4 linked regions of the Homo sapiens genome follow. The protein of the gene in region 2 interacts with the protein of the main gene of each other region in a pairwise test. Each region holds a gene or a part of one and is shown on either strand. Other genes may lie near its edges. The genes, in order: SYTL4, FCHO1, CCDC13 and PHLDA2.

The links.
Region 1: the proteins of FCHO1 (region 2) and SYTL4 interact in a two-hybrid assay, tested with the Homo sapiens proteins (one large-scale study listed by BioGRID).
Region 3: the proteins of FCHO1 (region 2) and CCDC13 interact in a two-hybrid assay, tested with the Homo sapiens proteins (one large-scale study listed by BioGRID).
Region 4: the proteins of FCHO1 (region 2) and PHLDA2 interact in a two-hybrid assay, tested with the Homo sapiens proteins (one large-scale study listed by BioGRID).

Annotation. Positions count from the first base shown.
Region 1 is NC_000023.11:100,721,198-100,729,121, forward strand, and holds part of SYTL4 (synaptotagmin-like protein 4), read right to left. Parts: intron 1-7,924. UniProt on the Homo sapiens protein: Modulates exocytosis of dense-core granules and secretion of hormones in the pancreas and the pituitary. Interacts with vesicles containing negatively charged phospholipids in a Ca(2+)-independent manner.
Region 2 is NC_000019.10:17,755,649-17,761,978, reverse strand, and holds part of FCHO1 (F-BAR domain only protein 1), read right to left. Parts: intron 1-6,330. UniProt on the Homo sapiens protein: Functions in an early step of clathrin-mediated endocytosis. Has both a membrane binding/bending activity and the ability to recruit proteins essential to the formation of functional clathrin-coated pits.
Region 3 is NC_000003.12:42,743,996-42,751,919, reverse strand, and holds part of CCDC13 (coiled-coil domain-containing protein 13), read left to right. Parts: exon of another isoform or gene 1-53; intron 54-1,404; exon of another isoform or gene 1,405-2,102; intron 2,103-4,546; coding exon 4,547-4,663; intron 4,664-5,892; coding exon 5,893-5,997; intron 5,998-6,761; exon of another isoform or gene 6,762-6,977; intron 6,978-7,924. UniProt on the Homo sapiens protein: Required for primary cilia formation and promotes the localization of the ciliopathy protein BBS4 to both centriolar satellites and cilia.
Region 4 is NC_000011.10:2,925,462-2,932,807, reverse strand, and holds PHLDA2 (pleckstrin homology-like domain family A member 2), read left to right. Parts: upstream 1-3,387; 5' UTR 3,388-3,443; coding exon 3,444-3,902; 3' UTR 3,903-3,912; intron 3,913-4,140; 3' UTR 4,141-4,535; downstream 4,536-7,346. UniProt on the Homo sapiens protein: Plays a role in regulating placenta growth. May act via its PH domain that competes with other PH domain-containing proteins, thereby preventing their binding to membrane lipids.

The sequences.
Region 1 (7,924 bases), on a different chromosome or scaffold from region 2:
AGTTCTAAGGGGAAAAGAGGTATGAGTTTTCATAATTCAGTAAGTATAACTTGAGATAAAGCAAGATACTCAAAATGCCTAGATGGACCTTCTTAGCCCCCATATATGTAAATATTTGATCCTGGTATTATCATTAGTTACAAATAAAGCTACACATACAGGAATCAGCACATCAATAAGGATGTTCTTTTAGTTTATAAAAATAATCTCCCCCACTAGATTGTAAGCTGTATGACAGAAGGGACTTTGTTTTGTTCATTTCTGTACCTTTGGTGCCTAGAGCACTGCCTGGATCATAATATGCACAAAATAAATATTTGTTGAATGAATGAGCTGGCATCAAGAATACCATATATCATATTCAGCCACACCCAAGAGCTTATCATCTAGGACTTCTCCACCTTTGATATCACTGATTCAACACCCCCTCTCTGACCACAACCTGCTGTGCTTCTAGCCTATTCAGCCAATGAGCCCCCCAACTAGCCCCATTCCTGTTCTCAGATTTCTTGGATGGGGGCAGTCTTCCATAGACCCTTCTGCTTTCACCTCCTCAGCTCCTTCCCATCTTTACTTCCTTCCCAATAACATTTAAATTTTATTGTTTCTTTCTCTTTTTTTTTTCTGAGACTTTTTCTCTATTGCTCTGGCTGGAGTGCAGTGGCATGATCTTGGCTCACTGCAACCACTGCCTCCTGGATTCAAGCGATTCTCCTGCCTCAGCCTCCCAAGTAGCTGGGATTACAGGTGTGCGCCACCATGCCCGGCTAATTTTTGTATTTTTAGTAGAGATGGGGTTTCACCATGTTGGCCAGACTGGTCTCGAGCTCCTAACCTCAGGTGATCCACCCGCCTCAGCCTCCCAAAGTGCTGGGATTACTGGTGTGAGCCACCGCACCCAGCCAATTCTATTGTTTCAACTGCACTCTTGTCAATATCCTCAATAATGCATAATTTCACTGCAAATATCTGATTTAAAAAACCATAGCTCTTCTAAGCCCAACTGTTATACTTTATGCATGCACAAGGACTCCTGAGATCTACTGGAGAAAAAAAAATCACACTCTGGTAGATTATTATCCATATGAATTCTTGGTCACCAAGCTCATCTTAACCCTGCCTGGCACTGCAACTATGCTTCCCTAGGCTGCTCTCCTGTTCTCCACAATAACTATTTCAAACCTTCTTCAAATACCACAAATATCTAACTCAAACCTTGTCCCATCTTAACCCCTGCTCTAAGAGGTTGGCCTTAACTATTATATCATAGAGAAATAGAAATACCATCAGACAAGTTCCTGCCGCCAAATCTATGAACCTACTTTCATCTATGCCTATTGAGGATAATCCTCTACCTCAATCTGGATCCCCTCCCATCTGGCATAAGGACTTTGCCTTCCAAGGATTTTGCTCTATTAATTAGTCCCTCCTTCCCACCAGCCTTTAAAGGAACTCAAGTCCTTCCTAAATAAATAAATAAATAAATAAATAACAGGTCCTCAATCTCAACTCCTTCCTTGCTACTACCCTTTCTCTGCTCTTCAAAGCCAGACAGATTTCTCTAAGGAATTGTACATAATCACTGCCTTCACTTCCTCATCTCTCCAATCATTTCTCAACCCACCATAGTTTAGCTTTCTGCCTCACAGTTCTCTGAAATTGCTCTAAGGTCACCAAGAACTTCCTAAATCCAATAGACAGTTCTTGGTCTTCCTAGATTTCTCTGGATCTTTAGTACCACTGACCATATTTTTAACATAGCCATTTCATTTTGAGAAACTTATTCTGCTGATATTCAAGTAAATTCACAAATATATATTCTGAGGATGCTCAATATTTGAAACAGCAAAAAAAAAAAAATTAAAGAACATAAACATCCATCAAAGGAAACTGACTAGTTATTGTACACACATATTAGGGAATATTGTGCCTTTGTTAAAAAGAAGAAGGTACGGTCTCCCTCTGATGCAGAGGTGAAGCTGGACTGTACTGCTGCCATCTCGGCTCACTGCAACCTCCCTGCCTGATTCTCCTGCCTCAGCCTGCCGAGTGCCTGCGATCGCAGGCGCGCGCCGCCACGCCTGACTGGTTTTCGTATTTTTTTGGTGGAGATGGGATTTCGCTGTGTTGGCCGGGCTGGTCTCCAGCTCCTAACCACGAGTGATCCGCCAGCCTTGGCTTCCCGAGGTGCTGGGATTGCAGACGGAGTGTCGTTCACTCAGTGCTCAATAGTGCCCAGGCTGGAGTGCAGTAGCGTGATCTCGGCTCACTACAACCTCCACCTCCCAGCCGCCTCCCTTGGCCTCCCAAAGTGCCGAGATTGCAGCCTCTGCCCGGCCGCCACCCCATCTGGGAAGTGAGGAGTGTCTCTGCCTGGCCGCCATCCCATCTAGGAAGTGAGGAGCGCCTCATCCCGGCCGCCATCCCATCTAGGCAGTGAGGAGCGTCTCTGCCCGGCCGCCCATCGTCTGAGATGTGGGGAGCGCCTCTGCCCTGCCGCCCCGTCTGGGATGTGAGGAGCGTCTCTGCCCGGCCGCCCCGTCTGAGAAGTGAGGAGCCCCTCCGCCCGGCAGCCGCACCGTCTGAGAAGTGAGGAGTCCCTCCGCCCGGCAGCCACCCCGTCTGGGAAGTGAGGAGCGTCTCCGCCTGGCAGCCACCCCGTCCGGGAGGGAGGTGGGGGTCAGCCCCCGCCAGGCCAGCCACCCTGTCCGGGAGGGAGGTGGGGGGTCAGCCCCCGCCAGGCCAGCCGCCCCGTCAGGGAGGGAGGTGGGGGGGTCAGCCCCCCGCCCGGCCAGCCGCCCCGTCCGGGAGGGAGGTGGGGGGGGTCAGCCCCCCGCCCAGCCAGCCGCCCCGTCCGGGAGGTGAGGGGCGCCTCTGCCCGGCCGCCCCTGCTGGGAAGTGAGGAGCCCCTCTGCCCGGCCAGCCGCCCCGTCCGGGAGGGAGGTGGGGGGGGTCAGCCCCCCACACGGCCAGCCGCCCCGTCCGGGAGGGAGGTGGGGGGGTCATCAGCTCCCCCGCCCGGCCAGCCGCCCCGTCCAGGAGGGAGGTGGGGGGGGTCAGCGCCCCGCCCGGCCAGCCGCCCCATCCGGGAGGTGAGGGGCGCCTCTGCCCGGCCGCCCCTACTGGGAAGTGAGGAGCCCCTCTGCCCGGCCACCACCCCGTCTGGGAGGTGTACCCAACAGCTCATTGAGAACGGGCCATGATGACAATGGCGGTTTTGTGGAATAGAAAGGGGGGAAAGGTGGGGAAAAGATTGAGAAATCGGATGGTTGCCATGTCTGTGTAGAAAGAGGTAGACATGGGAGACTTTTCATTTTGTGCTGTACTAAGAAAAATTCTTCTTCCTTGGGATCCTGTTGATCTGTGACCTTGCCCCCAACCCTGTGCTCTCTGAAACATGTGCTGTGTCCACTCAGGGTTGAATGGATTAAGGGTGGTGCAAGAGGTGCTTTGTTAAACAGATGCTTGAAGGCAGCATGCTCGTTAAGAGTCATCACCACTCCCTAATCTCAAGTACCCAGGGACACAAACACTGCGGAAGGCCGCAGGGTCCTCTGGCCTAGGAAAACCAGAGGCCTCTGTTCACTTGTTTATCTGCTGACCTTCCCTCCACTATTGTCCTGTGACCCTGCCAAATCCCCCTCTGCGAGAAACACCCAAGAATGATCAATAAAAAGAAAAAAGAAAAAAAAAAAAAGAAGAAGGTACTGTAGTTCTATATATACTGACACTGAAAGCATATTAAATTAAAAAAATTGCAAATCATATATATTATGATTCCATTTTTATTTGTTTACATTTTAGACAGATTGGATCATGGATGAATGGAAAAATGTCTAGAAAGAAATACAATCTTAACATTGTTACCTCTGGAGAGTGGGATAAGCAGGAACAGAAGATTTATATGTTACCTTTTATTGAGTCAAGTAATAAAAATGTAGTCCCATCCCTAAGCACAGCAACACTTCTAGGTAAGAAAAAAATTTCACAGGAGATCAAAAGGGAATGGCCGTAGAGACTAGGGGAAAATATTTTAAGGTCACCAGGGCTAAGAGAGAAAGGAGAGAAGTGTAGCTAATGGTTTCAAACATGGAATGAGAGATCTATTAAAAACAAGAAGAGGTAAGTATCCAATAGACAGAGAGCGTGAATAGATAATTCTTAAAGGGGAAAAATCACATGGCCAATACACATCAAAAAGAAAAAGTTTCACTCTTACTGGCAATAAAGATTTTTTTATGTTTGCTTATTAATTCAGCAAAATTTCAGAAAGACAATTTTCAGTTTTTAAAAAGGATTTAAGAGATATTCTCATATTTTGTTGGCAAATGTAAATTAGTAAGGCCTGTTAAAAAGCAATGTGACAATCTGATTTCTAAGAAAACTGAACTTCACAGAACTTATCACAATTGTAATTAAAAAATTATGTGATACAATATTTAATATACACTTCCCCTGCCGAAATAAGTTCCAGGAGAAAAATGGCCATTGTCTACCTTCTTCTCAGCCATACCTCAAGCATCTAGCTGGGTTGATGGATGGATAGATGGATAAATCTACATTGTAGGATCCTGACTGTAGGCTCTCAGTTGGTGCAACGTAAATCCTCAGTAAATCAACACAGAGCATGGCACAACATAGGCCCTCAGTAAATCAAATCACGCTTTCTGATGAGTTTAAAGACACTGATACTAATGGTATTCTGATGCCTGAATCGATAGAGCTACAAACAAGAAGCAGTGTAGATGCCATGGAAATTTTCTACTTCTTAAAAATTACTCAAGGTCAAGTTAGGTTTAGATAGTCACAGATATGAATATGAAAGCCACAGTGGTCCATCATTTCAACTATTCTTCTGCCAGGGCCATCCAATCTCCAGCCCTCTCCCTATTTCTGTCACGGCCACCCGGAAAAAATTCCCCATACTAGATTGTCCACACTCTGTTCCTGGTCTGATGAGTGCTGCCAGACAGAATGGATACAGGGTTCTGCGACTTGAGGCAGAGACAAATTCAAGTTACCCAAGCCATTTTAAAACTTTTTTCCAGTTTTATGGAGGTATACTTGACAAAAATTGTGTCTATTTATGGTGTACAGCATGATATTTTGAAATACACATACATAACCTGGATGATATGCCCCTAAAGAACTCCTCTTTTCGTCTCTCTCAAATGCTATTCCAACCCTTCACCATTCTTGCCTTCTTTACTCTCTGGTGAACCTTTCACTCTCTTGTTGGGGGCGGAGGGGCTCTCTCAAAATCCTGTCCCTCCACAGGTACTTCCTTCTCCATAGTTTTTACCAAGAGGATTGGTGAATCCTCTTGTTTCAATGGAAGAGCCACCACTTTTTCTCTAAGGCTAGTCTTTTCTCCTCTTTCACTCTGGCACTCCCACCCTCTGACTTTCTCGGGGACCTTGCATCATCAAGCTGTATGCCATCTGCACATAAATGGGCTCATCTATCTCTTATATTTAAAGTAAAACAAAATTAAATAAAACAGCCTTTTTATCCCCTGTGCCTTACTGTCTATAAGGAACACTCTCTCCTTCCCATCATAGCCAAGCTTCTTCAATGTATATACTACATGTTTTTAATTATATAAATTTATGGGGTACACATGCAATTTTGTTACATATGCAGTGGTTAAGTCAGAGACTTTAGGGTATCTATAACCTGAATAACATACATTGTACCCATTAAGAAATTTCTCATCATCTACCCTTCTCCCACCCCTCACCCTTCTGAGTCTCCATTGTCTATCATCCCACTCTCCATGTCCATGTGTATCTACCATATTTTTTATCAGTCCTTCTCAGTCCTCACTGCCCAACCCTCTACGATCTGCCTTCTCTCCTCCTGCTGCACTGATGTTGTCATTGGCCTCCTAATTGCCAAATCTAATGAACGTGTTTTTTAAATGTTTTATAGTGGGTTTTATCTGATTACGAGAGGGGTACACATCATGAACAAAGTTATGACATATGACAGACTAGAGAGAAAAAAACTTGCACTATATAATAGGCAATGGGTAAATATAACTAATAAATATAGTGTTCTTACAAACAAATCAAATATATAACCCAAAAGATAAATGTGCAAAGGATATAAAGGAGCAAGTCTTGGAAAAATACAAATAGCTAGCACAAATGAAAAGATGCTCAGCCACACTAGTGATCAGAGAAATGCCAAGTTAAATCAGTTAGATACTATTTTTCACCTATCAGATTGGAAAAAATTAAAAGCGTCATCCATCCTCAGCAAGGGCAGGAGGAAAACCACTCGCAATGGTGAAAGGGTAAACCCTCTTAGATGTCACTCTGGTGATGCCTATTTAAATTGTTTAATGTATATGTCCTTTGACCTAACAATTCTCCTATTAGAAAGCTATCCCACAAAAATACTTGTGTATATATATATCCTTGAGCATTATGCAAGAATGTTTGTGGCAGACGTGTGGTGGCTTGGACTAGGGTGACAGGCAGAGGAGATGGAGACGTGTGGCAGAACACATGATACAGTCTGAAGATCAGGTCAGCAGGACTCCCTCATGAATTAAATTGGGTGGAGAGCAGTGATAGAAAAAGAAGAATCAAGGGTGATCTTAGGTTCTTGGTTTGAGCAACTGAATGGATGATGGTGACATTTTACTGAGACAGGGAGTGCTGAGGGAAGAGGGTGGGAATACAAGGGCAATCGGGAGTGCCGTTTTGGCCACGTTACATTTGAGAGGTCTATCTGATAGGCAAGCAGAGATGTCAAATAGGTCATTGGATATATGAGGCTGCAGCTTAGAAGAAAGGCCTGGGTAACAAACATAAATTTGGGAGTGACAACAGTCTAGACAGATGTTCTTCAAAGCCATGCAGCTGGATGAGAGCCTCTGTGAAGATTTTAGATGGAGAAAAGTCCAGGGACTGAACCCCAGGTCACTGCAATGTTCAAAGGCTGGGGAGACAAATTTAGTAGAAAAAGAAGCTGGTCAGCTTTTTGTACAAATTTGAGTTTCAAATAAGTTAACATATATTAAATGATGAGAATCACATATTTACCACCTTTTGAAGGGCCCAACTCCTTCCAAGTCTGTCTTCTAAGAGATTCTGGCCTCTTCCTTTCTGAACATTTCAAAACACTTTTAAACAGAATAGCACTTTTTTCTTTTATGTTACACAGTGGTTTCTCCAGACTGCACAGTCATCCTGGTAGAAAACTAGTTAAGTACAACACAAATAGCACTCAGCTACGGCTTTTCCATAAAGTTCCATAATCCAATAACCACCTCATACCTAAAAGGCTATGGGTAACTTGAAACCAGAAGCCTAATTTGTGCCATCCGTTATTCTTTTGAGCTGTTCACTTCCCCATTGCACAGTAACTTTCTCCAGCCTCTTATTGATCTTGCGAGAAGCCTGAAAAGCCTCAAGACATCTGACAATCCACACCCCTTCCTCCCAGTGCAGTCCCCCTTCCTACCAACAAGAAGCACAACATTTTTACATTTCCACTTTTAAACTTTAGAGATTTCCACCCAGAGACTCATACTTTTAAAAAATAGAGAGGCCAGGAGCGGTGGCTCACGCCTGTAATCCCAGCACTTTGGGAGGCCGAGGAGGGCAGATCACGAGGTCAGAAGATCGAGACCATCCTGGCTAACACGGTGAAATCCCGTCTCTACTAAAAACACAAAAAGCTAGCCGGGCATGGTGGCGGGCGCCTGTAGTTCCAGCTACTCGGGAGGCTGAGGCAGGAGAATGGCATGAACCCAGGAGGCAGAGCTTGCAGTGAGCCAAGATCGCGCCACTGTACTCTAGCCTGGGCGACACAGCGAAACTCTGCCTCAAAAAAAAAAAAAAGTAAGAGAGAGGAAGTACTTCCAACTAGGTCAAAGTTGGCATCAGGAATGCAATCTCAAAGCAAAAATCAG
Region 2 (6,330 bases):
ATGAATGAAATAAAAATAAAAATAAATTGGAGTGGGTCACGCCTGTAATCCTAGCACCTTGGGAGGCTGAGGCGGGCGGACCATGAGGTCAGGAGTTTGGGATCAGCCTGGCCAGCATGGAGAAACCCTGTCTCTACTAAAAATACAAAAATTAGCCAGGCATGGTGGCGCACCCCTGTAATCCCAGCTACTTGGGAGGCCGAGGCAGGAGAATTGCTTGAACGTGGGAGGCAGAGGTTGCAGTGAGCCGAGATCACGCCATTGCACTCCAGCTCTGGGCAACAGAGGAAGACTCCGTCTCAGGGCGGGGGGGAAGTGTGTGTGTATATATATATATATATATATGTATATACATGAAAAGAAGTCAAATTGTCTCTCTTTGCAACATGAACTTATGTATAGGAAGGCCTAAACACACCACCAAAAAACTCCTAGAACTGATAAACAAATTCAGTTAAATTGCAAAATACAAATATCAACATGAAAATCAGTAGCGTTTCTATACACCATTAATAAAATATAGCTGAAAAGAAATCAAGAAAGTGATCCCATTTATACTAGCTACAAAAAAAAAAAAGTGTGTTAAATTGAGTTGCTGGATCAAACCAACCCTGAAAGCCACATTCCCCCATAATCATTTGATCTTATAAGCCAATACAGTCCCCGTTGCTTAAGTCACTGTAGTTGTGTTTTCTGTTCTTGTCAACATGGAAATTCCGCCTATGAGAACCCAAATTAGGGTCCAGGTTTGAGTTCTCTCCCAGGACCCACCAAAGCCCAGCACAGAATGAGAGACAGAAAGGGCATTTGAGTTCGTTGAATAAATAAACAAATGATTCTGCTGTTACCTGTTAGTGCCACTGGGAACTGAGTATTTCTACCCTGGTGCCTGCGAATGCCTTCACAAAATCTCTTTACTCCAATTTCTGGGGTTGTCATGGTGGGGGAGGCCAGGGCTGCACTGTGTGACCCAGGCAAGTCACTGCCCCCTCTGAGCTTTTAGGAGCTCCTCATTAAGATGGGGCAGGGAGGTTAGGCGCGGTGGCTCACCCCTGTAATCCCAGCACTTTGGGAGGCTGAGGCAGGCAGATCACTTGAGGTCTTGAGTTCGAGACCAGCCTGGCCAAAATGGTGAAACCCCGTGTTTACTAAAAATGCAAAATTAGCCAAGCATGGTGGCAGGTGCCTGTAATCCCAGCTACTCAGGAAGCTGAGGCAGGAGAATCACTTGAACCCGGGAGGCGGAGGTTACAATGAGCCAAAATCATGTCACTACACTACAGCCTGGGAGACATCTGCCTCTTACATGGAGATGATACAAGCAGCAAGATAATCCATGTCAATGCTCCCCAAAGCCCCAAAGGCCACTCTAGTTTTTGCTAATTCGTAACATTAGTTATTAATAGTTAGCATTTGTTTTAAATTTGCTTATGCTTCTTCCCCAAAGACATTTATGTTAAAGGGCAACTTTTTCTGCCACTCTCAATGGAAAATTGGGACCCTCTGCCGCATGAAAGGAGTAGGAAAAAATGAGGCAACAACTATATCTTAACGCCGGCCAGATTCTGTCACCTGGGAAGGGCATCATGCCTGAACACTACTAAGCTGTCCATTAAAAATGGTAATCAGGCCGGGCGCGGTGCCTCACACCTGTAGTCCCAGCACTTTGGGAAGCCGAGGCAGGCAGATTATCTGAGGTCAGGAGTTCGAGACCAGACTGGCCAACATGGTGAAACCCCGTCTCTACTAAAAATACAAAAATTAGCCAGGCGTGGTGGCACATGCCTATAACCCCAGCTATTCGGAGGCTGAGGCAGGAGAATCGCTTGAACCCGGGAGGCAGAGGTTGTAGTGAGCTGAGATCGTGCCATTGCACTCCAGCCTGGGTGACATAGCAAGACTCTGTCCCCCAATGCAAAAAAAAAAAAAAAGATGGCAAAACAGGAGACACAACATATTTCAGGATGAGGCAGGAATGCCTCAAATCATGGCTAATATTTAATGCTGATGTAGAGGTGTTGGCAAATGCAGTAAGGTAAGAAAAATAATTGAGACCAGATTATATGACCATCTACAGAAAACAAAAAATAATAAACAATATGAATAGAACTGAGGAAAAGGCTAAAAGCAAGACCAATATAGATTAAACATGAGGATTTTTTTTTTAACAGGCGTGTGCCACCACACCTGGCTGATTTTTGTATTTTTAGTATAGACAGGGTTTCACCATGTTGGTCAAGCTGGTCTTGAACTCCTGACCTCAACTGATCTGCCTGCCTCGGCCTCCCAAAGTGCTGGGATTACAGGCGTGAACCACCACGCCCGGCCTCATACACACCTTCTGATCCCGCTTCTCTCCACCCCTTGGAGACCTGGTCCTCTGCGCCCGCTGTTGGAATTGGACACCTTTAGATTTGGACTTAAAACTCACCATTACAACTTTAAAATCAATGACTAGATGGGTGTGGTGTCTCATGCGTGTAATCCCAGCACTTCAGGAGGCTGAGGCGGGCAAATCACTCGAGGTCAAGAGTTCAAGACCAGACTGGCCAACATGGTGAAACCCCGTCTCTACTAAAGATACAAAAATTAGCCAGACGTGGCAGTGGGCGCCTGTAGTCCCAAGTACTCGGGAGGCTGAGGCGGGAGAATTGCTTGAAGCAGGGAGGCAGAGGTTGCAGTGAGCTGAGATCCCGCCACTGCACTCCAGCCTGGCTGACAGAGCAAGACTCTGTCTCAAAAAAAAAAAAAAGGTAATCAGCTGGGGTCTGAGGGAACTGGGGACATTTTAGCACCAAATCAGGTCTTATAATAACACTGGAAGAGAAGGCTTGTGGAGGGATCTGATGCCATTTAAGTCCCAACACACATCAGTGAAGCCATCCCTCTGGCAGCATTTGGCGGGTTTTCCATAAATGGTAGTTTCCTGTGCCCTCCTCCAACCTACCAGGTTCACCCTCCCAGGTACCCGGAAGCTTGAATGTTATACATATTTTTCTATGTTTGAGACAGGGTCTCGCTCTGTCTCCCCAGCTGGAGTGCAGCGGCACAATCATGGCTCACTGCAGCCTCAAATTCCTGGGCTCAAGAGATCCTCCCACCCCAGCCTCCCAAGTAGCTGGAACCACAGCCATGTGACACCAGGCCTGGCTAGTTTTTTTTATTTTTAGTAGAGATACGGCCTTACTATGTTACCAAGGTTGGTCTCGAACTCCTGGACTCAAGCAATCCTCCCATCTCAGCCTCCCAAAGTGCTGAGATTACAGGCGTGAGTCACCACACTTGGCCAGAAGCCTGAAGGTTAAAGCCAGAAGTCACTGCTAGGTAACGTTTCCTGCTGCACCAATGGAGACACCGAAGCCAAGACTGGGGCAGACCCAGGTCAGCCTCAAGCCCAAATCTCCCAATGGTCACACTTCATTCTAGAATCATCAATGGGTCCCTATTGCCCACCAGATGCTGAAGTCCAAGTCCATGGCCTGGAATTGCTGCTCCAGCCTCATCTCCTAGCTTCTTCCTAGCCTCACCCACAAAACAGCAAATAGCAAAGACAGGCAGTGCCTTTCCACCACCACATTTTGTCCAGGCTATTCCCGCCATCAGCTCTCCAGCTTGCATCTCCTTCCACCCATCCACATCCTTCCACTTCCCAAGGATCATTGCCACCTGCTCTAGAAACTTCCCTAACCCTGCTCAACCCCCTCCCCCACTTCACTGTTGCTCCCTCCAGCTCGCCAGGAATACGTTTTCTCTTTTTTTTTTTTGAGACGGAGTCTCACTCTGTCACCCAGGTTGGAGTGCAGTGATGCGATCTTGGCTCACTGCAAGCTCTGTCTCCTGGGTTCACGCCATTCTCCTGCCTCAGCCTCCTCAATAGCTGGGACTACAGGTGCCCGCCACCATACCCGGCTAATTTTTTGTATTTTTAGTAGAGACGGGGTTTCACTGTGTTAGCCAGGATGGTCTCGATCTCCTGACCTTGTGATCCGCCTGCCTCGGCCTCCCAAATGCTGGGATTACAGGTGTGAGCCACCGCACCCGGCTTTTTTTTTTTTTTTTTTTTGAGACAGGGTCTTGCTCTGTCGCCCAGGCTGGAGTCCAGTGGTATGATCTTGGCTCACTGAAACCTCTGCCTCCCAGGCTCAAGCGATCCTCCCACCTCAGCCTCCCAAGTAGCTGGGACCACAGGTGCGCGCCACCACACCCAGCTAATTTTTTGTATTTTTAGTAGAGACGGGGTCTTGCTATGTTGCCCAGGCTGGTCTCAAAGTCCTGGGCTCAGGCGATCCGCCATCTCAGCTTCTCAAAGTGTTTGGATTACAGACGTGAGCTACCACGCTCCACCTATATTTTCTCTTCTTGTGTTTGGAATTATATTTTCAAAGTTCAAGTGTCCAATCTCCTTATACGTACAGGGTCACTTTGGGTTGGTGACTTCGTCTCTCTGGCCTCAGTTTCCTTCCTTGTGTGACAAATGGGGACAACAACAGCACCCAACTCCCAAGGGTCTTGCTGGGATGAGGCTGGCACAGTGCTGGCCCCAGGAGATCCTCGGGTGAGGCTGCACCAGGCACCACCGCCCAGAGCAGCATCTGGGTCTGACTCAGAGCCAACTGCTGGCCCGTTTCCCAGACCTGGCAAACCCCCAGCAGCGTCTGCCTCTCTTGGACTGGGCTGGCAGCCGAGGGTCCTAGGAGGGGCTGTCTCAGGTCTGTCTCTCCCACCAGAACTTCTAGACTTCAGACTTGGCCTCTGTGCCAGCCAAAATGTGGTCTTTTTTTTTTTTTTTTTTTTTTAGACGGAGTCTCACTCCATCACCCAGGCTGGAGTGCAGTGGCGCGATCTCACTGCGACTTCCACCTCCCGGGTTCAAGCAATTCTCCTGCCTTAGCCTCTCGAGTAGCTGGGACTACAGGCTCATGCTACTATGCCCGGCTAATTTTTGTATTTTTAGTAGAGATGGGGTCTTGCCATGTTGGCCAGGCTGGTCTCCAATTCCTGACCTCAGGTGATCCGCCTCCCTCGGCCTCCCAAAGTGCTGGGATTACAGGCATGAGCCACTGCGCCCAGCCAAGAGTGTGGTCTTTGTAACAGAGCTTGTTTATGTCCCTCTCCTGCTCACACTTCCCCCATGGCTCCCTAGTACACTTCATGCTTCGGCCCTGCCCTGGCGCAATGAGACTGGGGCATCCCTGTTTGGCTTAATCTCCCCAGCACCACCCAGCAAAGAACCAGGCTTCTATGGCGGCTTCAATACTAGCAACTGATGACAGATGTCACAGGAGGCCTCCCTGAGTCTGGGGGTGTGTGGGGTGCATGGGGTGGGAGTGGCGGTGCAGGAATTTCATCCCTTTTTCCCAGATGGGGAAACAGAGGTTCGGGCAGGCAAAGTCATTTGCTCAAGGGCTTCCAGCAGAGTCAATTCGAATCCTGAACTCAAAGCTCTTAACCATTCTCTACCAGGATATCTTTGGGTGAGGTGGGGAAGTCGGGGGTGGTTTCTATTTTCTCTTTGCTGATCTGAATTTTCTGCAGCGAGCCTGCACGCCTCACACAATTAAAAAGGATTTAAAATAAATGTAGGTGCCACTGTCGGGGTTCCAAAATGCAGGTGACTTTTGATCCTCAAATGGTCACCTCCATTACACGGCAGTACTAAAAGGAGCTCAGAAAGGGGTAGCCCCTCACTGGAGTCACACAGCCTTTCAGGGGCAAATCGGGGAGTCTGACCTTTGGAGAGAGGGCGGAGGTCACACCCCTGCAGGTGGCAAGGGAGTGCGGCCCCTTTAAGAAAGCAAGTGCTTTCAAGAGGAGCCCCAGCTGGGGAGGGAGCAAGGGCAGGAGTGGGGCTTGTTGCCAGGGGCAACCAGTCGCCTAGCAACAGGCTTCCTCACTGCAAGCTCAGGGCCTGCAACTGGGGAAGGGGCTTTCTGACCTGGTCCTTCCCTGACTCCTGGGCCCTCCCCTGTTCACCCATCCTCTGTGGCACCCTGTTAGCCTGGCTCTGCAGGAGGAGTCCCTGTTCCCTGAACTTGCCACTCAATGTCACATCTCTGGTCTTTTGCCCAGGCTTTCTCACAGCAAACACGATTCTGTGTCCTGGTTCCTACTCTAGGACCCCCAAGGCTGGGTTCAGCCCTGGTCCTGCAGGGCTGAAGGTGTCTAAGCTGGCTCTGGGTCCCCCAGACTGGGGACTCCTCCCTTGGGGCTGGGGCTGGGATGGATTCTCTTGGAGACCCCAGCATCTCCTAGGGCTGGCTGGGGATGAGGTCACAGTGGCAGGGAGAGAGGAAATGAATGAATAAAAACAACTCTGTCTCACTCAGCAGC
Region 3 (7,924 bases), on a different chromosome or scaffold from region 2:
GTGCTGGGAAGTCTGTGAGGCAGCCATGGGCCTGGGCCTCCCCTCCTCCACAGGTGTGTAGGTACCTCTACCCGAGGTCCACCCCCAACCCCCAACCCCGCTGCCGAGCCAGGTGCCCATTGTCTACCATTGCTGCATCCTCAGAGCAGACATCAGAGAACAGTACCGAGTGTATGGCCTGAGGCCAAGAATGTCGTGTCGGAAGCTATGGAGGGTGTAGCTCCAACTCTGTCTCCAGAAAGGAAGGCTGGGAGGAGCCTGAGAACCCTGGAACACTAGAGCCTGAGGATCAAGAGGGAAGGCCTGGTCCAACTGACCTCCCACTGTCAGCCCAGCCATCTCCTGTACAGCATCCTCACTGGGGACACATCCAGACTCCACCTTACTCCAGGGACAGGGAGCTCACTACTGCCCAGTGGAATCCTGTTCTTTATGGGGCAGTTCATATTATGAACACTTTCCCTTTCGTGGGGCTCCAAATCTACAGAGTAAAAGTGGCTATTGGAAATGGGGACTTATTCCCCAGAGCCCATTTTACTAAACCAGTGACAGTTCATGAAACTCAAGAGGTGGGAATTGCAGCTCCATGAAAGGAAGTCAGTCTGACCTAGTGGGTTGGTTTATCCCCAAATCAGATAGTAAATATCATCAGAGTCTAACATTCCAGGAGGCTTCACCAAGGGTTTTCTTGGGAAGCCAGGCCAGTTGGTGAGAGAGGCAGCCAAGCCCCGGGACTCCCAATTTGGTGCTTGTTTTCTAGCCCCATCTTCCCTGCTGCCTGCACCTCAGGATCAGACTGCCCTGTGCCTTCCTTGAGGATAATTCAGTCCTCGCTGTGCAGTGATGGGCCCCTCAGGTTCCGGCGGGGATGGGCCCTCAGGTTCCGAGGTGAATGTGCCTCCTCAAGAGTAGTCTTGTGTAAACCTGTCTCATTGCTGGGGAAGTAGAAGAGGGGCTCTGCCCTCTACAGGGGCTGAGTATTCTTCAGGGCCTTTCCTGGCTTCAGGGGACACTGCTAAGCTGCCCCTGGTTTATTCCACGCATTGAGCACCTCCACATTCCGAACTAGGGCTGCCCTGGATAGGAAACTGCTTGTTCAGCCTGATGGGATTTTCTAAGCCCTGTGGCACAGAGAATCAAAAATAGAGCCTTGACCGGGTGAGGTGGCTCATGCCCGTAATCCCAGCACTTTGGGAGGCTGAGGCTGATGGATCACTTGAGGCCAGGAGTTCGAGACCAGCCTGGCCAACATGGTGAAACACCATCTCTAGTAAAAATACAACAATTAGCCAGGCATGGTGGCGAACGCCTGTAATCCCAGCTACTCAGGAGGCTGAGGCATGAGAATCGCTTGAACCTGGGAGGCAGAGGTTGCAGTGAGCTGAGATAGCGCCACTGCACTCCAGCCTGGGTGACAGAGTGAGACTGTGTCTCAAAACAAACAAACAAACAACTACAACAACCACCAAAAAAACAGAGGCTCTGTCTATGGAGAATCCCAGAGGAGGAATGAGAAGTCATTCGAAGGCAGGATGTGGACAGGGCCTTCAGAGATGGCCCCGGTGCTCTAAGCTCACAGGGGAGTCCACCCTCCATTAAGGTTGCAGCTGGAAGGTGGGACGGAGGAGGGCGTCCCTGAGCTGGCCTTACTGGAGAAGGAAGATGGGGAAGGTGAACTGAGTGTCAGCTGGATAACATTTGACTGCAGCCCAGAGCTCACACGGGAGAAAAGGGGAACGAAAGCCAAAAAAGCTGGGGTGAAGTCACCCATAGAGGGAGCCCTTGAATGGCAGCTGGAGCAGGAGTTTTGACTTTATTCTGTGGCCACAGGGAGCCTGGGAGGTTCCAGGTTCTGAGAGAAGAGTGTGTGATGGGCCGCAGGTCTCAATTCATCAGCACCACGTGTTCTCCCTGGCATCTCCTGATCAGAGCGAGAGCAAAAGCAATGTTTCCCCTCATAGGCTGCTCAGGGCGGCCCAAGCCCGAGCCACACTCCAGAGGCCTGCAGGCTCAATCCACATTCCAACCCTAGGCCTCCAAAGCACATTCCAGAGTGGAGCTGAACACCCTTCCCTCTGCTTGGGGCTTCAGGAGGCCGTGATGTGAGTAGCGTTGGCATCATCTGCTCCCCATGTACTGCGCTTTAGTTATTTTCTCAAAGAAAACAGCCTCGGGTAGGGGAGGGAGCGTACCCATACCCAGGTCCCCCACAAAGCCTGTGGAATTTCACTCTGGGAAGAAAGAACTCTGAAATGGCTTAGAGGTAGGATTAGCTCAACTGCCTAAGCTAGGAGGACGGGGCCTGATCCAGCCCTCTCCAGAACACCATCTAGCCCTCAGCCCACTTGTCAGCTGCCCACTCAAGCCAGGCTAGGCCTGCCAGCATTGCCCTCCATCAGGACCTGCCCCAGACAGCACCCTTGACATGCGTTGTCCTAGCAACCCTCTCAGGTTCCCTGGAGATTGGCATTACATATCCCCATTTTACAGATGAGAAAATGAGGCTTGGACAGGGCATCACTGCCCAGGTTCTAGAGCCAGATCCAATCTGTATGCTTTTTCCATGCTCTGAGCAGATCAAAGAGATGCTGCAGGGTCACTGCAGCCATATGGAAGCACATGTACTCCCACAGCTCTCAGCACCCCCACTGTCAGGGCCACTGGGGCTCATGGCGCTAGAGATCTGACAGGCAGGGCGGGGCGTGGCAGGGGGTGGAGGGGTGTTGCTTCCCAACCCAGGGCAGATTCAAAGCCACACATTCAACAGGAGAAGAGGCAGGCACCCAACAGAGTATGCAGGGATGGCAGGCGGCCAGACAGGAGGAAGAACACAGAAGAAAATATACTTTAAAAAAAAGGATGGCCGGGCACGGTGGCTCACATCTGTAATCCCAGCACTTTGGGAGGCCAAGGCAGGTGGATCACCTGAGGTCTGGAGTTCAAGACCAGCCTGGCTAACATGGTGAAACCCCATCTCTACTAAAAAATATACAAAAATTAGCCAGGCATGGTGGTGGGCACCTGTAATCCCAGCTACTCGGGAGGCTGAGGCAGGAGAATCGCTTCAACCCGGGGGGGCGGAGGTTGCAGTGAGCTGAGATTATGTTTCATATAAGTTCCGAGTTGGCACATTCTGTTCACGTTGGCTGTTCTCTTTAGCCTGATGGTGGTGCTCTGAGGAAGCGGAGCAGGAAAGTATTTGTATACTCATTCCATAGATGAGGACACTGGATGAGGCCAGAGTTTCTGGACCAGGTGTTCATGTCTAGTTTCTTTGGCCAGTGGTTTTCAGCTGGGCTGCCCAGAGCCTCTGGGGTCCATGGAACTTCCCGGACCCAGTATACTTGGATCTGTCTTTCACACTAGCATTCAGAGGAGATTTTGTTTGTGCCTGCTAGAGAAAGGTCAGAAAGCCACTGTAGTACCAGCCCTGCTTCCTGAAGTTCAGCTGCTTTGCCCTGTTGGGGCAGCAGCAGAGGGCCTCAGCGTCATTGCCTGATGGGATGCTCAGCCTGACAACCAACGTTCCTGTGGCCACAATGCCCAGCATTAACAGCAGCTTAAATTGGAAGAGTCAGCCAGGGCAGGGGAAGGACAAGTATTCTTTCTCATCCCACCTGTGTCACCCCAACCAGCTGTATGCCTGAAGGCAAATTACCTCCCCTCTCTGGGCCTTATTTTCATCATTATGGAAGGGGTTTAAATGGGCTGACCTTGAAGGTCCCTTTGTCAAATATCTATGAGTCACAGGAGTGTCTATTGAAGACAGAGAAGTAGTCAGCCCATTTAAGAAAAATTTCCATCCAGATAGTTTAAATAAAACATTGGGTTAAAAAAAAAAAAGACATTGCTAAGAGTTTCAGCAGGCAGTTTTCATGGTTGCTGTAGTTCTTCAAGCCACAGAGATGAGCATTTGGAAATTAAAATGGGTCCTTATTTCTATTCAGTGGTCACTGCTAGGAAAGAGAGCCCAAGGCCCCTCAGCTGTCAAAAGACCAAGGCCCAAGCTGACGATTCTGGGAGAGGCAGATCCTGAATTAGGATGCCATGGCTCTCCTGCCACGCTGGGCTTGCCTTCGGGGAATAACGTGGTTTCCTCTTTATTCTGAGTGAAGATGGATTAGCTGTGATGCCAGTCTCTGAGCACAGCAGTGGGTCCACACCCAGGAAGTGTCTGGGAGGCGTGGAGCCTGCCGCTTCCTCCAGATGCTTCACCTCTAGGGTAAGGCATACACCCACATGTGTGTGTGCAACACTCTGCAAAAAGCTCAGTCCCAAAGTTAAGCTGCCAGGATTCAAATCCAGGTTCCACCTTTATTAACCAGGTAGCTCAAGTAGAGGACTTACCTTCCACCACCCTCCATTTTGCATCTATAAGGGGCTTACAAGAGAACCTACCTCACAGGGGTTTATGAGGATTAAATGAGTTCTTCCATGTCAAACACTTAGCACAGTGCCTGGCACAGACTTGGATAAATGGGGGCTATGATTACTATTCCCATGTAGGCAATAAATGACTACTTTCTCTCCTGTCCTTCCCAACCAGCTGGAGACCCCAGAGGTGAAGGCCCTGCAGGACAGGCTGGTGGCCACCAACTTGAAGATGAGTGACCTCCGAAACCAGATCCAGTCTGTGAAGCAGGAGCTGCGGATGGCACAGAAGGTCTTTCAGAGCCAGGGCTTGGGGCTTCTTGTGTGGCTGGGGCTGGACTTGGGAAGAGCACGGCTGGCACAGTGGATTCCTTTCTGGAGCCATGAGTGCTCAGTCCCTTGAGCACACTGCTTGCTCTGGGTCAGGCTCCAGTTCCAGTCCTTCCTCCCACCAGCCCTTGGTCCATAACCATTTGGTGGGCAGAGTCGCTGGCTACCTGAGCCTGCCACCCCCACCCCCGCAGCATACCTGCCCTTGTGGTGCCTGCCCAGCTCTAGACTGAGGAGGACAGCACTGTCCACCCAGGGAGAGTCCATTAAGCCTTCCCTGCACTACTTGTGCCCCAGTAGATCCTGGGTCTCCCCTTAATGTCACCCTTACTTAACTTGAAAGCCTGCCAACACCTGCCTTCTTCTCTGCTATCTGTAACAGAAAATGAATAGGTTACTTGTGTATTAAAGGACCCTTTCAAAGGAAAATGCTCAGACTTGGGACACAGGCCCAGCTGGTTCGTTATTTATTTTTATTTACATAGCGAATTCTCTGGCATTTGTCTTCCCTGCTGGAACCACTCAGACTGGCCAAGATTTCCAAAACAGTGTTCTATTGTGGAAACAAGTGCCAGAGACTTGGTACGCTGGATCGGGTTTCTGTGACAGGCTTCAGAGGGGCCCAGGTCACAAGCTGGAGCGTATTGTTTCTGCCTCAAAGCCTTGAGGTTGGGCCTGAGTGCTGCACTTCAACAACCGCAAAGCTGGGTCCTTCTTGGACCACAGCACCCCAACTGACATTCAGTAGCCCACCTTTTGCTGCACTCAGAGGTCCACTTGTCCGTGGGTTTTCACAAAGGCTAGGGTCCTGTGGTGATGTACTTCCTATAGCCAGAATTAGCTCAGCACTAGGTGACAGGTGAGTGGGTTAAGGAAGCAGGAGTTGGTCAGCTTTGTGGTTCAGTCATCCCAGAATATGTCAAGAGCAAGGGGCCCTATCTGGGCATTGCTGGCAGTTTCTTGGCTGCTCTAAGCATTGCCAAGAAATGCCAGGGATGATGGGTTTACTACTTTCCCAGGGAGAGCTGCCCTTGGGACATGGAAAACTGACCTTTGAGGGCTATGCTCTGAGATGGGAAGAAGATCGTGTAGGTGAAGACTGCTTCTGAATATGCTTCTAAATACGTAGCAGCATCAGGGTCTGGTGGAGCCCTCTCTTTTGGCCACATTGAAGGCCCTGCCTTATTTCAGGTTTTGGCCAGAGAGGTTGGGGAAGACATCAACGTTCAGCAGCTCCTATCTTCGCCAGGGACCTGGAGGGGTCGGGCTCAACAAATTCTTGTTTTGCAGAGCAAGGTGAGTGAGTCATCAGACTTCTCCTGGCCTGAACAAAGGATTTAAAACACCCCAGAAAGAGCTGCCCTGACCCCCTTAGAGACCTAAGCACACAGTACCCAAAAAAGGCCTTTAGGTCTCACAGTGCACTCGTGCGGGGTTGTTGTTTTACCTTCTCGCCAACCAGCCTGATTTTAATTTGTTATTTAATGAACAAGCTCTTATATAACACTTAGCACATGCCAGGCACTGGAGCTTAACAAATGCCAACGCCTTTGGTTTGATTTATTTTACTCCAGGCATCTTTTTTTTTTCTTAGTTTATGTAGATTTGCGTGACTGTTGTAATTGTAAGCTTTTTCCAGTTTTGTCCAGATGCTTGTAGTCTTTTGAAAGTTTAATTACCCAATAAAAATTTAGCCTTGTCTCCCTCTTTATTGTCTGAATATTTTGGAGCATACCAAAAGCAGCTAACAGCAGGGGCTCTGGAGCCACACTGCTCAGATTCAAATCCCAGCTCTCCACTCACCAGCTGTGTGACCTTAAGCAAGTTCCTTTAGCTCTGTGCCTCAGTTTCCTCATCTGTATAATGGGGATAATAACGATGCCTACCCCACAGGATTGTTGGGAGAATTGAGTCAATACTTGTAAAATGCTCAGCACAGGGCCTGGCATGGAGGAAGCACTGTATAAAAGTTAGGTGTGGTTCTTTTCCCTTTGTCCCTTCAAACTGAGAAACATGTGAGAAGGTGTATGACTTCCACCATTTGCCAAGCATATCACCCTTGTTCCCAGGGACTTCGAGGGTCACAGTGGCTTTTATCTTCAGTGTCTCCCATGGGATCCTTGAAGCCAATATAAAGGGGGAAAAACTCCAAGAAGCTAATAGATGATAGTGCATGGCCTTGGGGTTCAAGAGACCTGAGTTTACGTTTGGCCACCGGTCTGCCAACTCTGACCTTGGGCAAACCCCTTCATCTTCCTATGTCTTCATCTTCACACCTGTGAAATGGGGTAACATAAAATAACATTTGTAAAGCACCTAGGACAGTGCCTGACCATAATAAGCACAAAACAACTTACTTCTTATTGTCATTAAGTTACATGTCAAATTCTTTTTTTTTTTTTTTTTTTTTTTTTGAGACGGAGTCTCGCTCTATCACCCAGGCTGGAGTGCAGTGGTGCGATCTCGGCTCACTGCAAGCTCCGCCTCCCGGGTTCACGCCATTCTCCTGCCTCAGCCTCCTGAGTAGCTGAGACTACATTTGCCCGCCACCACGCCCGGCTAATTTTTTGTATTTTTAGTAGAGACGAGGTTTCACTGTGTTAGCCAGGATGGTCTCGATCTCCTGACCTCGTGATCCGCCCACCTCGGCTTGCCAAAGTGCTGGGATTACAGGCATGAGCCACCACGCCCGGCCCTGTATGTCAAATTCTTAAAGGTAACAGTATTCTTTAATGATTAAATGGAATTGCCTCACAGCGCCACACGAGGGCACTGGTGGGTGCCTTCAAAGCTGTGCTCCTGCCCTTTGCCAGGGAGCCTAGCGAATTGTGCTTCCTTTCCTGGCTCAAGTTTACCAACATTGTTTTGTCATTTGGTTGTGTTGATAGGGAAACCAGGGTCAGAAGGACCCTAGGAGTTGTCTGCTTCTACCCTAGCGTTATAAGGGTGATAAGGGCATTGTTCTGTGGGATGACATCTACCTGCCACTTGCTGAAGGCCCACATGTGCCAGGCTGTGTTGACAGCTTCACCTAGACCATCTTGGGATTTTGCAAAGTTACCTAATCCTAAAAATAACCTGTAGCATTTAAAATGCAGATTCCATGTCCCTTCCGCTAGAACTGTAGTTTGTTGATCTGGAGTAAGCACCAAGATTTCAGTCCAAGAAGAACCTCAGAGGATTCCCAGGCTCAGACAACTTCACAATACTGAATCCTCATAAC
Region 4 (7,346 bases), on a different chromosome or scaffold from region 2:
GGAGGGGCATTCCTCAAAAGACCCTCATGTGGGGTCCCTGTGTCAGCACTCTTCTGCCTCAACATCCCTCCCCCACATCCCAGGAAGTGAGTGTCACAGCCCTCATCCTCCAGAGGGGACCCTCAGGCAGGCCTGCTCTGGGGGATAGAGATAGGGTCCCTCCTTGGAAAGGTGACCTTGACAAGTCACTGCACCTCTCTGAGCCACCCTTTCTGCATCTGCAGCTTGGGGCCAGTGCTTCTCCTGGGGGCACCGCTCAGCCCCAGGTGGGACCAGGTGAGGCGGTGAGGCTCAGGCCTCAGGCAAGGGAGGCCGAGCGGGGGCTGGCAGAGGGCGGGTGGCTCAGAGGGGCAGACGGCAGTGTGAGTTAGTGGTGGTGGTAAAGCCCCTCGGGTGGATGGTGGACGCAGAGAGGATGGGGCAGCCCCTGTGTGCAAGTACCTGCCAAGTTGGCATGGTGTCCTCCAAGCCCCTCTCACCTCCTAAGGCCGTGGTTTATTTTTGCCCATGTCCATAAAGACACCCTGGGGGCTCCTGAAGTCACCTGCTGGTCCAGGGCTGGTAAGGCTTGGGAGTCGGCTCCCTCCAGCCCCCACATTGGCAACCAGGTTCAGGCTGGTTTGGCCGAGCAGGGGCCCAGGGTGTCTAGCAGCTGCTGGGGAGGCCAGGGCCACTACAACTGAGCCCCTGGGGCAGGGACTGTGGGCAGAGAAGCTGCCTGGGGAGGCCTGGCCTCCAGGGCTCAGACCTGATTTCCAGCAGCCCCTAAAGGGCCATCCACCCCCATACCCCCCAGGTCTTCACAGTGTCCATGAGGGGAATAGCAGAGAGGGGCTGAGTGGGCAGGAAATCCCCTAGGGAGGGCAGGGCCTCTGAATCTCGGCTGCACACCCTGCCCCCTGGCCTCCCAGCTCCTGCCCCACCTGTCAGAGCATCACCCCTGGGTTGTAAGTCCTGCCCCCAGGGGAGTGAGTTTCCCAGCCTCCCTTGAGAGGGCCACTGGGGTACAGGCAAAGAGAGGAGCTGGGCGGGGCTGGGGGAGCACACCTCACCTGGCCTCACCTGGTTTCCAAACCCTCTTCCTCCCCCTCATTTCTCTCAGCCCCTTATCTGCTCCTGCCTGTTCTCTGTCCCTTCCCCAAGGCCCTCTCCATCCTGAACCAGTTTCCTCTTCTGTGGAACAGGGGCTGGAGTGCCCACTTTGGGGAGTTCTCTGGGTTAGGTGGAGGCTGGGCACAGTGGTGGCATACGGGCACCACTGGCCCTTCAAGGTCTCCTTGGAATCTTCGAGGGCACGCCCTCCCCACAGAGTCCTCCAAGCTGTCCTCCTGGCCTCCAGTACCCCCGACCCCTATCCCCATCCTCATGTACCTGCTGTGCCCCTGGGGTTTAGAGGGATTCCTCTCCCCTCCTCTGGGGTCCCAGCACCAGCCAGGCCTGCAGGCACACAGTAGGTGCTTAAGCAACCACGAGTGTCGGGGGATTTGCCTGGAGCCGAAGTTCCACTGGCTGGCCCCTCAATGGGGTAGGCAGGCTGGTGGGCCTGGAGGTGTTCCAGGCACCTGTGGGCTGGCGCAGTGACAGAGCGCTCTGCCCCCGGCCGCTTCTCCTGGTCTCCCACTGCCCAGAGGTGCCTCTTGCCCAGGTCCCACTGTCCGGCAGCCCAGGGCCCTCTGGAAGCAAAAGAAGGGACACCAGAGTCCGAATCCTTCCTGCAGCCTCTCCGGAACAATGCTCGAATCCCCTCTCCCCGCCAAAGGCTGACCTCCCCTCACCCACCCACCCTACCTGCTGCTCCCTCACCACAGGATCCCAGCCCTGCTGCAAGGACAGGTGTCAGGTAGGGGGCAGTGTTGACCCGCCGGCCCCAGGCAGGTGTCTCACTCCCAGGCCAGAACCCTGGCACAGCCCAACCCTGCCCTCTGCCGGCACTGCCCCTCCACACCACATCCCTGCCCACTGCCAGGTCCTCTGGCCACACCGGTGGGACCACCGGGCAGCTGCTACCTGCATGCCATTCACAGAACCGGGTCTGGGGCGCTCCTCTGAGCCGGACGTCTCTTTATCCTTTACAGTGACCCTGAAGGGCAGGTGGAGGTAGGGCTGGTCCCAGGTCTGGGTTTTACGCTCTGCTGCCACTGTCTTGACATTTTAAATACATTTTGAATCAGGGGACTCTCGTTTTCATTTTGCGTGAGCCCCGTCATTGAGGCCAATTCTGACCCCAGAGTTGGGACTTCCTGCTGTAACCACCCCAGGGCGCAGCTAGGGGGCAGGGGTGCGGGAAGGTGGGAGACGTGGAGTAGTAGCCGGGGTCTCTGGGGTCCTCTCGGCCGGCTCCACCCCCACCCCTGGGAACCCGGGAAGAGCCGGCTTTCGCTTCCTGTCTATTAAACCCTTTAAAGGAAGAGGGTAAATAAAACCGCCCGTCTGCCCAGCTGGAAAGCGATGACTCAGCCGCCCCCGCCGACCCTCGCCCCCAGGCTGATCCCAGAGAGCGGGCGTCGCGGCCCAGCCCGAACCCCTCAGCTCCTGGGACCTCTCTCCGGTCCGGGTCGTGGGGGCGCGGTCGGAGCAGTCCGTACCCCAGTTCGGGACACTACGAGGGCGCAGGGAGGAGAACGGGCTTCCTCTTCCCCTTCCATTTTCTGAGCTCTATGGGTTGCTGGTCTAGCCCTTTCCACGTGTTCCCTAATCCAGCAAAGGTTACTGTTCCCATTTCACAGAAGCGAAAACCGAGGCTAAGAGAGGTGGTCGTTCTTGGCGCAGCCCGTGGGTGGCAAGATAGGAGCTCGGTCCGCTAGGGCAGGGCCACTTTCGGAGAGGGTCTCTGGGCGGCCCTGGGAAAGGCCCCCGAACAGGACGGAACGGCCAGGGCTCGGGAGTAAGGAAGGGGGCCTCGACCCTCCTTCTGCCCCGGGAGCCCGAGAGCGGCAGGGCTGGACTTGGGGCGCCTGGAGGGTGAAGGTCTGGTCCCGGCTGTCTCCCCACGGTGGGCCGGCCCCGGGCCCGCGGGTGCTTCCCGGGGCTCCCCGGCGTGAGTCATCGCGGGCAGGGCTGGCTGCAGCGCATTCTTCCGCGGGGCCGGCCTGCGAGACGGTGCGGGCGAGCGCCCGGGCGGGGCGGGACCTCGAGTCACCCCACGGGGCCGGACAGCTGGGGCACGGGGGGCAAGAGGAGCGCGGGCTTCTGAGATGGGAGGGGACGGCCGGGGACCGACCAGAGCGCGGACGCGACGGTGCGGGCCCGGACGGCTGGGCTTGGGGAGGGTATGGCCCGGGGCGCGCGGGGCTCAGGCGGGCGGGGTGGCCCGAGGGCCGGGGCGGGGCGGGGAGGGGCGGGGCGGGGAGGGGCAGCTATAAAGGCCGCGCCGGGGCCACGAGGAGCAGAGCCGGCGCCGTCACCGCCCGCATTGCCGCTCCCAGTCCCGCGCTCGGCACGACATGAAATCCCCCGACGAGGTGCTACGCGAGGGCGAGTTGGAGAAGCGCAGCGACAGCCTCTTCCAGCTATGGAAGAAGAAGCGCGGGGTGCTCACCTCCGACCGCCTGAGCCTGTTCCCCGCCAGCCCCCGCGCGCGCCCCAAGGAGCTGCGCTTCCACTCCATCCTCAAGGTGGACTGCGTGGAGCGCACGGGCAAGTACGTGTACTTCACCATCGTCACCACCGACCACAAGGAGATCGACTTCCGCTGCGCGGGCGAGAGCTGCTGGAACGCGGCCATCGCGCTGGCGCTCATCGATTTCCAGAACCGCCGCGCCCTGCAGGACTTTCGCAGCCGCCAGGAACGCACCGCACCCGCCGCACCCGCCGAGGACGCCGTGGCTGCCGCGGCCGCCGCACCCTCCGAGCCCTCGGAGCCCTCCAGGCCATCCCCGCAGCCCAAACCCCGCACGCCATGAGCCCGCCGCGGTGAGTGACTGCCCGCGTCCCGGCGAGCCCTGCGCCCTAACAGCCGGGACCGGGGCCTTTGGGAAAAACCACTTCAACCCCAGACGGCGGGGCGGGGGCGCTGCACCTCCTTGGGGGACCCGGCGCCCCGCAATCGCGCTGGCCCCCTCGCGTCAGGGTCTCGGGGCCCCTCAGGCTGGACCCGGACCGGCCCTGGCACAGCTCTCTGACCCAGTCCTTTCCCCACAGGGCCATACGCTGGACGAGTCGGACCGAGGCTAGGACGTGGCCGGCGCTCTCCAGCCCTGCAGCAGAAGAACTTCCCGTGCGCGCGGATCCTCGCTCCGTTGCACGGGCGCCTTAAGTTATTGGACTATCTAATATCTATGTATTTATTTCGCTGGTTCTTTGTAGTCACATATTTTATAGTCTTAATATCTTGTTTTTGCATCACTGTGCCCATTGCAAATAAATCACTTGGCCAGTTTGCTTTTCTACCATCCGGCTGTGGCTCAGTGAGACTCCTGCTGGGAGGGTGGAGGCCCAGGAATGGGCGGGCAGGACACCCTCATCCAGTCCTGCGGGGCTGGTGTGAAAGGCGCTGGGAACCGGCTTTGAATGAATAAATGAATCGTGTCATCTGCTGGGCCTGGTCCACACCCTCTTTTCCAAGCAGCCTCCCCAGAGGCCAGGAAGTGCCCTGGGGCTTGACCCTGGCTACCTTCTGCTCCTTGGTGTGTCCTGAGGAATTGAACCTGGGGAGGACAAGGGCCCTGGGTCCGAGCTGCTGCTGCCTGTGGTGGGGGAACCTTCCCCAGCAGCACTTCCTGCCCACAAACCACCCGCGCAGTCAGACCAGAAGGAATCCCTCAGCCCTCTGGCTGCCCGCCGCCAGCCGCTCCTTGCCAGTGCCCGCAGTGTGGGGCGGGCAGGGTCGCCTTTGCTTCTGGGGGAACAGGAGAGAGTTCTGGGCTGTCTCCGATGGTGGGGCAGGAGGCAGAGGTCCCTGCACCTCCAGGTACTGGCCCAGGACATTGGGGTGGAGAGGCCTGAGTGCAGCAAATCCCTGCCCCTCTTTCTGAGATAGCTGACCACGGCTTTCTGCCCTCCGGTCTGGCTGTGCTCTTTGAAAGACAGGGATGGTCTGAGACAGTTAGGGTTCAGGAAGTGTGTCCCCCACCCAGAAGGGCTCCTGGTGATGAACAAGCTGAGGAGGTGATAAGGGGTACAGGCATGACTCCTCACCCCACAATGGGGCCTTCATTTCTGGAACCTTCGTGGTTGGAGGGATGCCAGTAGGGGAGGCAGAGAAGTACCAGAATTGGACCCTAATCTCTGTTGCTAGGAGGCCGACGAAGCCTGGTAGCTGGTCTGGGCTCAGGGCGGGGAGGGTGCTATCCCTTCGCTGCATGGCCCGCAGGAGTCTTGGTGCTAGGTCCAGAAGAAACTATTGCCTGCAAGGAAGTTTCTCCCGAACGCAATTTGTGAAGCCCCTGTGCAGATCGGGGAGGGGCTCCTGCAAAAAGCAGAAAACAGCAGCCAAGGACGCTGCCTGGCTGGGCTCCTGGGCCTCCTGGCTGGCCCACCAGAGCCTCACCTGGATGGATATCCAAGGTCAAGAGGAGAGCCCTTGCCCCTGGGTGCTTCAAGCATAGGCATGATCCGGCCTGAGCTTTAGGCGAAGAGGGTGGATGGCCCTTGGCTCACTGAGGCCACTTCTTGTTTGAGGAATTTTGGAATTCCTCAAATTCTGAGGACAGTGGAATTCTAAGGTTTGGGGAGTCCATGTTTCAACAGCTTCTTTTAAAAGCAGCCCGAGGAGAGGAGGGGCGGCCTTCATGGTCTCAGGGGCAGCTGCAGACCCTCGCTGAGGCTGTGGAAAGCCTGTCCTCTCCAGATGGGTCAATCGGTCACAGCGGCTGGGCTGGCCTCCTCATGCCCAGTTCTCCTCCCCAGAGCCCAGGACCAGGGGGTGGGGGTGAGGGGTCGGGAAGTGCTGTGGTCAGGAGGCTGGGAAGGCAACGGTACATGGCCTGGCCAGCAAATCAGCTATAGAAGGGACCCCCAGTTCCCAGGCCATGGATGGGTACTGGTCCATAGCCTGTTAGTAGCTGGGCCGCACAGCAGGAGGTGAGCAGCGGGGCAAGCATGACCGCCTGAATTCCACCTCTCGCCAGATCAGCGGCAGCAGTAGATTCTCACAGGGACGAGAACCTTGTTGTGAACTGTGCACAAGAGGGATCAAGGTTGAGCACTCCCCATGAGAATCTAATACCAGATGATCTGGGGTGAAACAGTTTCATCTGGCCCACCCACATCCGTGGAAAAATTGCCTTCCATAAAACTGGTCCCTGGTGCGGAAAATGTTGGGGGCCACTGAGCTGTAGGATGAAGAGGCTGAGATAAGGGGACACCAGAGGAGTTCTGGGGTTCATGTGGCTGGCAGTGTCTGGTGCGGTTCTGGGGTTCGGGTGGCTGGCAGTGTCTGGTGCAGTTCTGGGATTCGGGTGGCTGGCAGTGTCTGGTACGGTTCTGGGGTTCGGGTGGCTGGCAGTGTCTGGTACGGTTCTGGGGTTCGGGTGGCTGGCAGTGTCTGGTACGGTTCTGGGGTTCGGGTGGCTGGCAGTGTCTGGTGCGGTTCTGGGGTTCGGGTGGCTGGCAGTGTCTGGTGCGGTTCTGGGGTTCGGGTGGCTGGCAGTGTCTGGTGCGGTTCTGGGGTTCGGGTGGCTGGCACTGTCTGGTGCGGTTCTGGGGTTCGGGTGGCTGGCAGTGTCTGGTGCGGTTCTGGGGTTCGGGTGGCTGGCACTGTCTGGTGCGGTTCTGGGGTTCGGGTGGCTGGCAGTGTCTGGTGCGGTTCTGGGGTTCGGGTGGCTGGCAGTGTCTGGTGCGGTTCTGGGGTTCGGGTGGCTGGCAGTGTCTGGTGCGGTTCTGGGGTTCGGGTGGCTGGCAGCCTCCTTGGTACAGTTCTGCGACCAGGGTTTGGGTCTGTGTGCTGGACTGTTCAGCAGAATGAGGGCATTTTTCCTTCCATCTAGGAAGGCCTCAGTTCCCTGATCTTTTTTTTTTTTTTGAGATGGAGTCTCGCTCTGTTGCCAGGCTGGAATGCAATGATGGGATCTTGGCTCACTGCAACCTCCGCCTCCCGGGTTCAAGCGATTCTCCTGCCTCAGCCTCCCGAGTAGCTGGGACTATAGGCGTGCACCACCTCACCCAGCTAATTTTTTAAAAAATATTTTTAGAAGAGCCGGGGTTTCACCATGTTGGCCAGGATGGTCTCGATCTCTTGACCTCATGATCCTCCCGCCTCGGCCTCCCAAAGTACTGGGATTACAGGCGTGAGCCACTGCGCCCAGCCAGGTTCCCTGATCTTTTAAAGCAACCTGTTTCTGCTCTTGGGCAGGCACACTGTGGGCGGGAGTTGGGCAGTGAGCTCGCCATTGCTTGGGATGTGAGCA